2 linked regions of the Homo sapiens genome follow. The protein of the gene in region 2 binds, or shares a complex with, the protein of the main gene of each other region. Each region holds a gene or a part of one and is shown on either strand. Other genes may lie near its edges. The genes, in order: PDCL3 and CCT3. A codon is read from its position in the direction of its gene.

Evidence for each region.
Region 1: the proteins of CCT3 (region 2) and PDCL3 are in contact, whole or in part, in a cryo-EM structure (PDB 8I6J), measured with the Homo sapiens proteins. Residues at the interface, in NP_005989.3 of Homo sapiens: Met47 (codon at 6,581), Pro53 (codon at 6,471), Met54 (codon at 6,468), Val58 (codon at 6,456), Met59 (codon at 6,453), Thr60 (codon at 6,450), Asn61 (codon at 6,447), Asp62 (codon at 6,444), Ala65 (codon at 6,435), Arg68 (codon at 6,426), Glu69 (codon at 6,423), Arg167, Ile258, Glu261, Phe264, Leu268, Gln269, Glu271, Ser297, Asp298, Leu299, His302, Ser380, Glu382, Ile383, Arg389; in NP_076970.1 of Homo sapiens: Glu66, Ala70, Met73, Tyr74, Arg75, Arg77, Arg78, Trp82, Leu182, Pro212, Lys213, Ile216, Glu217, Asp218, Val219, Arg226, Leu229, Met230.

Annotation. Positions count from the first base shown.
Region 1 is NC_000002.12:100,558,767-100,565,992, reverse strand, and holds the start of PDCL3 (phosducin-like protein 3), read right to left. Parts: upstream 3,001-7,226; 5' UTR 2,926-3,000; coding exon 2,920-2,925; intron 2,689-2,919; exon of another isoform or gene 2,484-2,688; intron 1-2,483. UniProt on the Homo sapiens protein: Acts as a chaperone for the angiogenic VEGF receptor KDR/VEGFR2, increasing its abundance by inhibiting its ubiquitination and degradation.
Region 2 is NC_000001.11:156,328,293-156,335,292, forward strand, and holds part of CCT3 (T-complex protein 1 subunit gamma), read right to left. Parts: intron 6,627-7,000; coding exon 6,576-6,626; intron 6,484-6,575; coding exon 6,421-6,483; intron 5,352-6,420; coding exon 5,255-5,351; intron 1-5,254. UniProt on the Homo sapiens protein: Component of the chaperonin-containing T-complex (TRiC), a molecular chaperone complex that assists the folding of actin, tubulin and other proteins upon ATP hydrolysis.

The sequences.
Region 1 (7,226 bases), on a different chromosome or scaffold from region 2:
GGCGGAGCTTGCAGTGAGCCGAGATCGTGCCACTGCACTCCAGCCTGGGCGACAGAGCAAGACACAGTCTCAAAATAATAATAATAATAATGACTGAGTGATTCATTCAACAGATAAAACTGAAGTATCTACCACATGTAAATTATTGTAGGCAATGGGGAAGAGTGGTGAATGCGAGAGTCACCTGTGTTACAGACAAGAGGAAGAGACAGGCAACAAACAAGTATATATACAAACTATACATAGAGAGATAAAATTGTGGCAAGTGCAATGACAAACAGGCTGCCATTTTAGAGAATTACCCAGGACCCACATTCCACAGAGTAGATAGGGATGTTCCCTACAGAGGAGGTGACATTCCGTCTGAGGGTGGAAAGCAATCTGTGATAGGAGTCTGGGGGCTTACAAATAATCTTCCAGGCTGGGCACGGTGGCTCACGCCTGTAATCCCAGCACTTTGGGAGGCAGAGGTGGGTGGATCACAAGGTCAGGAGATCGAGAGCATCCTGGCTAACATGATGAAACCCCGTCTTTACTAAAAACACAAAAAATTAGCCGGGCGTGGTGGCGGGCGCCTGTAGTCCCAGCTACTCGGGAGGCTGAGGCAGGAGAGTGGCAGGAACCCGGGAGGTGGAGCTTGCAGTGAGCCGAGATCGAGCCGCTGCACTCCAGCCTGGGCGACAGAGCTAGACTCTGTCTCAAAAAAAAAAAAAAAAATCTTCCAGGCTGGGTGGAGTGGCTCACGCCTGTAATTCCAGCTCTTTGGGAGGCCAAGGCAGGTGGAGCATCTGAGGTCAGGAGTTAAAAGACCAGACTGGCCAGTATAGTGAAACCCCATCTCCACTAAAAACACAAAAATTAGCCAGGTGCACGCCCGTAATCAAGAAAATAATCTTCCAGGCAGAGCGGCCTGCGGCATGCATACTGCCCAAGAGCAAAGAGACTGTGACATTTTGAGGATCTCAGGCTGCAGATGAGGCTTGGCTGACAGAATTCTCTAATGGCCAAACCTGAGAGGAAAAGCTGAGACGTCTCAGAGTAGCTCATAAAATACAGGGCACTCTAAGCCCTTTTTCTTGTACCTTGTCCCTGAATCCTCACAAGCCTAGGAGAGGCACGGCATTTAGAGGCACTGCCATGCTAGAACGGCTGGCCAAATCAGCCAGCATCAAAATCACAAAGGATCATTGTCACAAAGACTGATGTAAAAGTGGCTCTTAGATCTAGAACCCAGCTGCCCAAGCACCGGTTTGCATGGTGTGGCAAGAACACTGCTAATGGAGCTCAGGCTTGCTTTGGAATATGAAATCAGGAGCACTGTGAAAAGGGCACCGGGATAATCGGTCTCCAACCCCAACCCTGTGTAACAGTTCTGAGATACATCAAAAGAAAAATGAGGCCGGGCGCGGTGGCTCATGCCGATAATCCCAGCACTTTGGAAGGCCTAGGCGGGCAGATCACCAGGTCAGGAGATCGAGACAATTCTGGCTAACATGGTGAAACCTTGTCTCTACTAAAAATACAAAAAATTACCCGGGAGTGGTGACGGGCGCCTGTAGTCCCAGCTACTCAGGAGGCTGAGGCAGGAGAATGGCGTGAACTGGAGAGGCGGAGCTTGCAGTGAGCCGAGGTCGCGCCACTGCACTCCAGCCTGGGCGACAGAGCAAGACTCTGTCTCAAAAAGAAACAAACAAACAAACAAACAAAAAGAGCAGAATCCTTTCTACAGGGTGGTCAGGGAAGGCCTCAAGGGACCTGAAGGACAGGGAATGCAAAGGAGGCCAGGGCAGCCCTCAAGCTACCACTTCACCATTTAAGAGTGTCTAGGCCAGGTGCGGTGGCTCATCCTGTAATCCCAACACTTTGGGAGGCTGAGGCTGGGCAACATAGGGAGACCCCATCTGCACAAAAAATTAGCCCAGAGTGGTGGGTGCACGCCTGTGGTCCCAGCTACTCCGGAGGCTGACAAGGGAGGATGGCTTAGCCCCGGGAGGTCGAGGTTGCAGTGAGCTGTGACAGAGCCACTGCACTCCAGCCTGGGCAACAGAGCAAGACCCGGTCTCAAAAAAAAAAAAAACAGTGTCTGGCTCCTGGCAGACACGCCCTCCCCTCCAGCCCCTAATGCCTCCCTCCCCAGCAAAACCCGCACCCTCTCCTCTCCATCTGCCACTAAGCAGAGATTAGAATTTCTGACCACTGCGGGATCTTTGGACAGTGACAAAATTTAGTTGGCATAGGTTTTCACCCACAATAGTGCCCATTTCCATGGTGTTTTCATTCATTCTCCTTAGGCTTTAACCAAATTCCGCTAGTAAATTGCAGCTACAGAAAAATAATTTATTTTACCTATTTTAATAAAAAAAAAAAAAAGGACGAAACAGAGGGACCCTCGCGGGGAGCTCTGGAACCCGAGCGGTCAGATAGGGAACACGCCCCAAGCGGATCCCAGGGCTCGGGGGAAGAGGGTGTAACTAAGCCCTCACCTGGCTCTCAGTGGAGCCAGGAACACCGGCTGTGGCGCTGCTTTACGTGCGGAAGACCCCAGGCCGGACCCTCCGCTTCCTAACACCTCTGCCCAGGTGTGCCTTAGGGGAGTTCAGGAGAGGAGGTAACTTTTGTTAGGCGGGATCCGGCAAGACCTTCACAGGCCCGGGTGGGTAGAGACCGCGAGAAGACATAGTCCCGGAGGACGAGGTTTGGGGGACCCGGCACACCGAGGCGGGGACGCCCAGGCCGTGGGTCCTGGTGGGACCACGCCCGCCTCCCGCACTGCGCCTGCGCAGGGCCTGGACGCGCCGGGCCTCCCTCGTGCCTGCGGCGCCGGAGCTTCCCCCAGGGCGGGCGTCCACTGCCCGCCCGGGCCTAACGAGACAAAGGAACGGGCCGCAGCCCCCAGACCCGAGACCCGTCCTAGCTCACCTGCATCTTGTTTCCAGTTCAGTTGCTCAAACCAGCTGTGCCGCAGCGCCCCCGCCCCTCAGCTCTCTTTTGTGCACGCGCACAGCGCCGCCACGCCTCTTCCCCCAGCCCAGCCTTCGCCCCGCCCAGGGACGAGCGGCGGGGAGTAAGGGCGGAAGCAACAGCCTTGAGTCTGCGCCTGCTCTTCAAGGAACTGGCACAGAAGCGTTCGCATGCGCCAGATAGGATCTGCCTACTGTCCTGCTCGGAGTGCACTTGACCTGGTTCTAATTCTGGTGGCTGCCTTATTAGGGCTGGTCTTCAGCGGAGGAGGGGTGGGGCTGGGTGGAGGAGGAGCCCGGGGCCGTGTGCCTTTTCCAGCTGCCGGCCCAAACCTGTAAAGACGTCTCGCTCTGACTAGCCTAACAAGTCAGAAATAGAAAATTGCCTCTAGGCCGGGCGCGGTGGCACACGCCTGTGATCCCAGGCCGAGGCGGGCGGATCACTTGAGGTCAGGAGTTCGAGATCAGCCTGGCCAACATGGTGAAACCCCGTCTCTACTAAAAATACAAAAAAATTAGCCGGGCGTAGTGGTGGTTGCCTGTAATCCCAGCTACTCTGGAGGCTGAGGCAGAAGAATTGCTTGAACGGGGGAGGCGGAGCTTGCAGTGAGCTGAGATCTCTCCACTGCACTCCAGCCTGGGTTACAGAGCGAGACTCCGTCTTAAATAAATAAATAAATAAAAATGATGCAGGGTCTTCTGGAATTCACCCACGATCACTTCAGCCTTGGAAAAGGCAACTCATTAATAAGACATTGAGAGCCTGCTGTGTACCAGGCACCATTCTAGGCTCTGCAGATGCAGCAGTGAGCAAAACACTAAAACAAAGGTGAAAGTCATCTGCCGTGCCTGAGTATCAGGAGACCCATGTATGCAGGCACACAGGCACTGAGCAAAAAGCAGCAATCTGACTTGTAAAATGCAGGTATTGGGCTCCAGAGCTTCTGCCCAGGCACACTCCAAGTTTAAGAGAGCAATATTCCTACCTGGTATGGAAGGAAGCATCTTGCACACGTGGGCTAACTTGCTGCCTCCTGGCAACTAAGCGGACACAGAGAGTAGAGACCCACACACCTGTGAGATAGGCGCAGGGCTTCCAACCGTGGCTATGCATTAGAATCACCTGGAAGCCCTCAAAAACTAGGAATGTCCTGGGGCTCCATCCCCAGACAAATTAAATCCTTGGAAATGAGGCCTAGCACAGATACTTTCTTAAAGATCCTCAGGTGATGCTAAAGTGCACAGTCGTTGATATAGAGTGAATCAAATGATTGCTTGAGAGCAAGGAGTTTTTATTTAATTTATAAGGATCCTTAAGATTTTTCTCACTCATTTCAACTGAATTACAGGCCCTTTTAGGGATTTATTAATGTATCTGGCAGCACAATGTTTGTTAATGAATTTTCCTTGGGTCTTACCACCAAAATCAGGACTGGAACTAACTTTGAGTTTGATCCTGTGCTTCTTGCTCAGTCCTGCACAGCAACAGAGCAGGTGGTGTTTTGTCCTTTCCTCATCCCCAGCCTTTGCTGTTCCCTGAGGCCTGTTTTCCAGGACTCAGCTATTCTACAGTTGCTCTTCCCCACATGATCCGGTCAGAGGCATTCTAACCAAAGCCAATCCATCCTGAATAGGGGATGGGGAAAAGGAGGCTGAGACCTACTGGGTTGTATTCCCAGAAGGTTACGCATGCTTAGTCACAGAATATTTACCAAACAGACCTAAGACAACAGACCCAGGAAATGGCCTGGTGTCCTGAAAGCTTTCTTTTTTCTTTCTTTTTTTTGAGATGGAGTTTCACTCTTGTTGCCCAAGCTGGAGTGCAATGGCGTGATCTCGGCTCACTGCAATTTCCACCTCCTGGGTTCAAGCGATTCTCCTGCCTCAGCTTCCGAATAGCTGGGATTACAGGTGCGCGCCACCACGCCTGGCTAATTTTTTTTTTTTGTATTTGTAGTAGAGACGGGGTTTCACTGTGTTAGCCAGGCTGGTCTCGAACTCCTGACCTCAGGTGATCCACCTGCCTTGGCCTCCCAAAGTGCTGGGATTAAAGGTGTGAGCCACCGCACCTGGCCTTGTTTTGTTTTTTTGAGAGTCTCTCTTTGTTCCCCACCCTGGAGTGCAATGGCAAGATCTCAGCTCACTGCAGCCTCCCCCTCCTGGGTTCAAGTGATTCTCCTGCCTCAGCCTCCCAAGTACGTGGGATTACAGGCATGCACCACCACGCCGGGCTAAGTTTTGTATTTTTAGTAGAGACAGGGTTTCGCCATTTTGGTCAGGCTGGTCTCGAACTCCTGAGCTCCTCATCCCAAAGTGCTGGGATTACAGGCGTGAGCCAGAGTGCTGGGATTACAGGTGTGAGCTACCACGCCCAGCCAAGAACAAAAGCATTCTTAAAGTTTTGTTTTAACAATAATATAGATTATTGGGAAAGACAGTAGTTATGAAATCTGGCCCAATAGTCCCACAGACAGTTGTTTTTGGATAAACATAGACATTGACCCTTCTGCTGTTAAAGCTTGAAACTTGTATCTGTTTAATCTGAGTTTCTTCCTTAGGAAAGGACCTTCAGGCCTCTCAGAAAAAGTATCAAAGAACTGAAACTCAACAGATGACCTCACCAGATGCATCCTTGCCCTTCCCTCTTCTTGTTTTCTTACACCATGTTACATTTCTTCCCTGCTATATAAACCCCTAGTTTTAGTCAGTCGGGGAGATGGATTTGAGACTGATCTCCTGTCTCGTCTCCTTGTCTCCTCGGCTGCAGCACCCAATTAAAGGCTTCTTCCTTGGGAATACTTGTCATCCCAGTGATTGGCTTTCTTTTTTTTTTTTTTTTTTTTTTTTTCCGAGACAGAGTCTCGCTCTGTCACCCAGGCTGGAGTGCAGTGGCGCAGTCTCGGCTCACTGCAAGCTCCGCCTCCCGGGTTCAAATGATTCTCCTGCCTCAGCCTCCCGAGTAGCTGGGACTACAGGCGCCTGCCACCACGCCCGGCTAATTTTTTGTATTTTTAGTAGAGGCAGGGTTTCACTGTGTTAGCCAGGATGGTCTTGATTTCCTGACCTCGTGATCTGCCAGCCTCAGCCTCCCAAAGTGCTGGGATTACAGGCGTGAGCCACCACGCCCAGCCCCATCCCTCTTGCTTTTGTCAAAATTATTCTTTTGTTATTCTTTCCACCTGTGCTCCAGATCCTCTCACCTCCCTCAGGGACTTCTTTCATCTTTCCATCCTTCTTGGCTGTGGAGAAAATAATTACAGCTTATGAGAAAAGATCAGAGATATACGAATTAGAAAAAATAAACTATTTCTATTTGTGGATGATATAGCATCCTGGAAAACTCAGCGGAACCGAGTCTTAAATTCATACTAACAATATGATAATTCAGTATAGGAGCAGGATATAAAATTAACACAAAAATAGTCTTCATCCGTGTTTACAATAACAAACTACAAGACAAAATGGACTCCAATTACAATAACAACAGAAAAGAAAAAGCTCTTGGAAACAAAGAAGTAGGCAAAACCTGCATTAGTTAAATTTAAAAACTTTTCTGAAGATACAAAAGTAGACTAGAACAAATGGACAAACATCCTTTATTTTTGGATAGTATGACTCAACATCATAGAGATATCAATTTTCTCCAAGTCAATATGTAAAATTTAACACGATGTCAAAAATCCAACAAATTATTTTTTGAGGCTAGGCAGCTTGACTCCAAAATTTTTATCAAGAATAGCACAAGGCAGAAGGGAGAGCTAGCCCTACTAAACCTTAAAACAATGTGGTGTTAGTACATAAATAGACAAAGAGATCAAGAGAGCAGCACAGCAAGTTCAGAACAAGCCCAGAAATAGAGCCCAGTACATATAAACATTAGTGTATGCTTAGACGAGACGGTATCTCAATCTGCTGGGATGGACTTTAAATAAATGGTGTTCGGACAACTGGATAACCATTTGGAAATAGATAAAATTGGATACATACTTCACAGTGTATATCAGAATAAAAAGTAAAAACTAAAAGTACTAGGAGAACACATGGCATAATTTCTTTATAACCTAAAAATGGAAAAAAACTTTGATTACTAAAAGTCTAAAAGAAATCAAATTAAAACAATGATTCTACTACTTAGTTTTTTTGTATAGAAATAATGTATATAAGCACGCTGCCTTTTGTGTAAAATAAAAGGTGAAATAAAATACATTTATGTCAGCCGGGCGCAGTGGCTCATGCCTGTAATCCCAACACTTTGGGAGGCCAAGG
Region 2 (7,000 bases):
CCGGCTGCCCCTACTGGGAAGTGAGGAGCCCCTCTGCCCGGCCACGACCCTGTCTGGGAGGTCTACCCAACAGCTCATTGAGAACGGGCCATGATGACAATGGCGGTTTTGTGGAATAGAAAGGCGGGAAAGGTGGGGAAAAGATTGAGAAATCGGATGGTTGCCGTGTCTGTGTAGAGAGAAGTAGACATGGGAGACTTTTCATTTTGTTCTGTACTAAGAAAAATTCTTCTGCCTTGGGATCCTGTTGATCTGTGACCTTACCCCCAACCCTGTGCTCTCTGAAACATGTGCTGTGTCCACTCAGGGTTAAATGGATTAAGGGCGGTGCAAGATGTGCTTTGTTAAACAGATGCTTGAAGGCAGCATGCTCGTTAAGAGTCATCACCACTCCCTAATCTTAAGTACCCAGGGACACAAACACTGCGGAAGGCAGCAGGGTCCTCTGCCCAGGAAAACCAGAGACCTTTGTTCATTTGTTTATCTGCTGACCTTCCCTCCACTATTGTCCTATGACCCTGCCAAATCCCCCTCTGCGAGAAACACCCAAGAATGATCAATAAAAATAAAAATAAAAAAAAAAAATGTACATGTTATTCATTAGTATGTGCTCCAGTGTTTGAATTCAATATATTTTGTTTCAATTCCAAAGTGTCAATCATGTATATTGAAAGAAAAATAATCAAAAAATACAGTCACGTACCATTTAATGTTTCAGCCAACAATGGACCACATATATGACAGTGGTCCCATAAGATTATAATATCATATTTTTACTGTACCTTTTCTATGTTTAGCTATGCTTATTATACAAATACTTACCACTGTATTATAACTGTATTCAGTACAGTAACATGTTATACAGCTTTGTGGCCTAGAAGCAATAGGCTATACCATACAGCCTAAGTGTATAGTAGGCCGTACCACCCAGGTTTGTAAAGTACACTCCATGAAGTCTGCATAGTAATGAGACTGCCTAATAACGCATTTGTCTCAGAACGTATCCCCATCTTTTTTTTTTTTTTTTTTTTTGAGACGGAATCTTGCTCTGTTGCCAGGCTGGAGTGCAGTGGTGTGATCTGGGCTCACTGCAACCTCCACCTCTCAGGTTCAAGTGATACTCCTGACTCAGCCTCCCGAGTAGCTGGGACTACAGGCACGCGCCACCATGCCCAGCTCATTTTTTGTATTTTTAGCAAAGACAGGGTTTCACCATGTTGGTCAGGATGGTCTCGAATTCCAGACCTCGTGATCTGCCCACCTTGGCCTCCCAAAGTGCTGGGATTACAGGCGTAAGCCACCGCGCCCAGCCCATATCCCCATCATTAAGCAGCATATTATTGCATTTTAAAAGATGGCTGAGTGGCTGGGCATGGTGGCTCACGTCTGTAATCCCAGCACTTTGGGAGGCTGAGGTGGGAGGATCACCTGAAGTCAGGAGTTTGAGACCAGCCTGACCAACATGGTGAAACCCCGTCTCTACTAAAAATACAAAAATTAGCTGGGCATGGTGGCGGGTGCCTGTAACCCCAGCTACTTGGGAGGCTGAGGCAGGAGAATTGCTGGAACCCGGGAGGCAGAGGCTGCAGTGAGCCAAGATCGCGCCAGTGCACTCCAGCCTGGGCGACAGTATGAAACTCTGTCTCGAAAAAAAAAAAAGCAAAAGCCTGAGTAAGATAACTTAGAAAAGGATATACCCTATTAAGAAATTATTAGAACTGTAACAGAAGATTTCTTTAGGGCTGGTCAAGTGTTCTTTTTCACATTCTTAAATCCATCTACATCTAAGATACTTAGACTCATGGATACTTATTCTACCCACTATCTCTAGATGATTCAACTGAAATTATCAGCTAGAAAATTTTCTCTGATATGTAAAGCTCATGTTCTATTACAAAAAATAAAAAATAAAAAAGAGTATGAAATCTTTCCTCCCTCCTCTTTCATCCTTCCAGGTTTTCCCTAAAAGTCCATAACTGGCTATGTTCTGAATCCTCAAAAGAACTGGATCTAAAGATGGACTAGTTGACTGTGACTCTCAAGGACATTTTTATTCAACTCACCATTCTTAAAATGCAGTACAATAGGGCCAGGCGCTATGGCTCACGCCTGTAATCCCAGCACTTTGGGAGGCTGAGGTGGGTGGATGACCTGAGGTTGATAGAGTTTGACACCAGCCTGGCCAACATGGTGAAACCACACCTCTACTAAAAATACAAAAATTAGCTGGGCTTGGTGGCATGCGCCTATAATCCCAGCTACTCAGGAGGCTGAGGCATGAGAATCACGAGCCCAGGAGGCAGAGGTTGCAGTGAGCCAAGATGATGCCACTGCACTTTAGCTTGGGCTACAGAGTGAGACTCTGTCACACAAAAATAAATAAATAAAATTTAAAAATAAAAATAAATAAATAAGGCCAGGCGTGGTGAGACCAGCCTGGCCAACATGGTGAAACCCCATCTCTACTAAAAATTAGCCAGGCACAGTGGCGGGCACCTGTAATCCCAGCTAACAGAAAGGCTGAGACAGGAGAATCACTTGAACCCCAGGGGTGGAGGCTGCAGTGAGCCAAGACTGTGCCACTGCACTCCAGCCTGGGCGACTCTGTCTCAAAGATAAATAAATAAATAAATATAATTTGAAAAATTAGCTAGGCTTAGCCAGGCACGGTGGCTCACAGCCTGTAATCCCAGCACTTTGGGAGGCTGAGGCAGGTGGATCATGAGGTCAGGAGTTCAAGACCAGCCTGGCCAATATGGTGAAATCCCGTCACTATTAAAAATATAAAAATTAGCCGGGCGCGGTGGTGGGCATCTGTAATCCCATCTACTCAGGAGGCTGAGGCAGGAGAATCGCTTGAACCCGGGATCAGAGGCTGCAGTGAGCTGAGATTGCACAACTGTACTCTAGCCTGGGTGACACAGCAAGACTCCATCTCAAAAAGAAAAACACTTTGGGAGGCTGAGGCAGGAGATTGCTTGAGCCCAGGAGTTTGAGGCAAGCCTGGGCAACATGAGACCCCATCTCTACGAAAAATAAATAATAATAATTTTGATTAAGAACTTTATTTTTAGGTATGTGGGCCAACACTATAAATTAGCATCCCTTGGCTGGGCGCAGTGGCTCACACCTGTAATCCCAGTACTTTGGAAGGCCGAGGTTGTCAGATCACCTGAGCTCAGGAGTTCGAGATCAGTCTGGCCAACATGGTGAAACCCTGTCTCTACTAAAAACACAAAAATCAGCCAGGCGTGGTGGCGCATGCCTGTAATCCCAGCTACTAGGGAAGCTGAGGCAGGAGAATCACTTGAACCTGGGAGGTGGAGGTTGCAGTGAACTGAGATTGCGCCAATGCACTGCAGCCTGGGCGACAGAGCAAGACTCTGTCTCAAAAACATAAATAAATAAATAAATAAATAAATAAAATTAGCATCCCTTATTTTAAAATAGTCCCTCTCAGGCCAGGCGTGGTGGCTTACACCTATTATCCCAGCACTTTGGGAGGCAGAGGCGGGCAGATCACCTGAGGTCGGGAGTTCGACACCAGCCTGACCAACATGAAGAAACGCCGTCTCTACTAAAAATACAAATTAGCCAGGCATGGTGGCCCATGCCTGTAATCCCAGCTACTTGGAAGGCTAAGGCAGGAGAATCGCTCGAACCCGAGAGGGGGAGGTTGCGGCGAGCCGAGATTGTGCCATTGCACTCCAGCCTGGGCAACAAGAGTGAGACTCCATCTCAAAAAAAAAAAGAGACATGGTCTTGCTTTGTTGCCCAGGTTGGAGTGCAGTGGCACAAACACGGCTCACTGCAGCCTCAACCTCCTGCCTCACCGACCTCAGCCTCCCCAGTAGCTGGGACTACAGGTGTGTGCCACCACATCCAGCCGATTTTTATTTTTTACAGTGACGCGGTCTCTCCATGTTGCCCAGGCTGGTCTCGAACTCCTGACCTCGTGATCTGCCCACCTTGGCCTCCCAAAGTGCTGGGATTACAGGTGTCAGCCACCACACTTGGTTGCAATCAGATTTTTTAAAACCAGTGTTTCTAGTATAAAAATTTTACTATCATCTTGACATTTACACAATAAAGGCAATAGGCCAAGATTTGAAAAATAATTCTTTATGATCCTATAGGAAGTAGAAAGATTAGTCTTTAAACTTACATAGCCCAGGGTCATTATCCTAAAGATTTCATTTCTTATTATTTGTAACCCCAAAATCAACATTCATGACACTTTCATAGTCATTCATGGAAATTCACAGAATGGCAAAAAATTTGAGTCACCCAATGACATTCCTAGGTGAGGTTAAACAAGGCCTTTAGCTCTCACACTGTAAAAAAAAGTGTCCTTTATGCAGTATATTTAAGGTTATGTTTTTCACATTTTTCTTGATGATTTCGGTATTTATAATGGCTCACAAGTGTAGTGCTTAAGTGCTAGCTAATGCTTCTATGTGCAAGAAGGCTGTGATGTGCCTTACAGAGAAAATACGTTAGGTGAGCTTTGTCCAGGCATGAGTTATATTGCTATGGGCTATGAGTTCAATGCTAATAAATCAACTATATATATTAAATGGGTGTCTTGAAGACAAACACATACAATAAGGTATATATTTATCAGTTGATGAAAGTGTGACCAGAGGCTTATAGGTATCTAACCCTGTATTTCCTATAGAAGCAATGATTTATTATTTGCCAATTCAGTGTTTGTGGTGACTTTATAGGCGTGGTGGCTCACGCCTGTAATCCCAGCACTTTGGGAGGCCAAGGAGGGCGGATCACGAGGTTAAGAGATCGAGACCATCTGGCCAACATGGTGAAACCCTGTCTCTACTAAAAATACAAAAATTAGCTGGGCGTGGTGGCACGTGACTATAGTCCCAGCTACTTGGGAGGCTGAGGCAGGAGAATCGCTTGAACCTGGGAGGCAGAGGTTGCAGTGAGCCAAGATCGCACCACCACACTCCAGCATGGTGACAGAGTGAGACTCTGTCTCAAAAAAAAAAAAAAAAAAGAATATTATAACTTACAGTGAATAAAGAGAATTAACTATTAGTTTATCAGCCAGATTTGCATAGCTCACCCTATTCATATAAATGTTTTATACCCAACTGGAGAGAATACATAGAAAATAACCAATAAGCTATTTAAATATCTGTAATTAGTGGATCTGTAACAGAATTTCCTTCTTAAAATATGACACAGGTGTTACTTCTAATTTTTCCTTATCAACCTCTTATTCTCCTCTTACCAAGAATAATTACTGATGTGGTCCCATCTCCAACCTCTTCATCCTGGGTCCGGCTAATTTCGATCATGGACTTGGCCGCTGGATGCTGGACTTGAATCTAAAAAGGTAGATCACTAGTGAATTCACACTATTCAAAGACCTCTGAACTCATGAAGCTTGGCCCTAACTCTTGGGCTTCTTGCTTCTATACGTACTTACTTTCCCTTTAATGTTTTACCATATCTTGAAAGATTAAAATTGGCACCCCAAATAGCTTAAGTAAACCACTTTCCAAATCCTTTTTGGGAAAAAGTGTATTACATGAACTCAACTATTAAAGCTGCCAGAGGACAGAACGATATCTTTTAGCTTATTTACTGGAAGCACTATTGTGGCTGAATTGTGTTCTTCAGTAAGATACGTTGAAGCCAGCTGGGCATGGTGGCTCACATCTGTAATCTCAGCACTTTGGGAGGCGGAGGCAGGTGGATCGCCTGAGGTCAGGAGTTCGAGACCAGCCTGGCCAACATGGGGAAACCCTGTCTCTACTAAAAGTACAAAAATTAAGCCGGGTGTGGTGGCATGCGCTTGTAATTCCAGCTAATCAGGAGGCTGAGGCAGAAGAATTGCTTGAACCCATGAGGCGGAGGCTGCAGTGAGCCGAGATCACATCACTGTACTCCAGCCTGGGTGACAAGAGCGAGACTCCGTCTCAAAAAAAAAAAAAAAAAAGATATGTTGAAGTCATAACTCCCAGAACCTGTGAATTTTACTTTATTTTAAAATAGGGTTTTTGCAGATGTAACCAAGTTAGATAAGGTCATTCTGAATTAGGGTGGGCTCGAAGACCAATCACCGGTGTCCTTGTGTAAGAGACACACAAGGGGAATAACATGAAGACCAAGGCAGAGACCAAGTTCATGCCAAAGAAAGCCAGCAACCATCAGAAGGGAGAAGCGGAGTTCTTCCCTAGAGACTTCAGAAGGAGCATGGCCCTACTGACGCCTTTATTTCAGACTTCTAGCTTCATTCTATAAGATAATAAATTTCTGTTGTTGAAGCCAACCAGTTTCTGGTAATCTGTTATAGCAGCCCTAAAAAACTAATCAGAGCCTGTATCTTAACAGGTCCTTTATGTTTACAGAACTGTCAGAAAGCAAAAAAACAAAACCAAAAACAAAACACACCTCTCGAAGAATGGCATTGCCATCATTGGTCATCACAATGCCTCCCATTGGGTCCAAAAGCATCTAAGATGAAAGCAAAAGTTATATTTAAAGTGTCCTAGATAACAGGAAGAAAAAAATTGTAGCCTAAGAGTTTTAGGAAGAGATAAGCCTACCTTCATCATGGACTTGGGTCCCAAACATGTTCGGATGATATCTGCAATAGTCTAATGGAAAGGGAACATAAAATACGCAAGCACAAATCAGAGGACAGTGTGAGAAATGTTGGAGTAATAGGGAAAAGGGGCATGAACAACCCACAGAGTCAGTGTTTTATTTTATTTTAATTTTATTTTATTTTTAGATATGGGGTCTCACCATGTTGCTCGGGCTGGTCTCAAACCCCTGGGCCCAAGTGATCCACCTGCCTCAGCCTCCCAAAGTGTTGGGATTAGAGGCGTGAGCCATTCCGCCCAGCCAGAGTCAGTGTTTTTAATGACACCCCTAAAGCATGGTTAGCCATCACTTTAGACATAGCATGCCACTTTAGATATAGGATGTGGCTAGCTCTGTTGTTTTTCTCCCCTTGGGAATGCTTTCA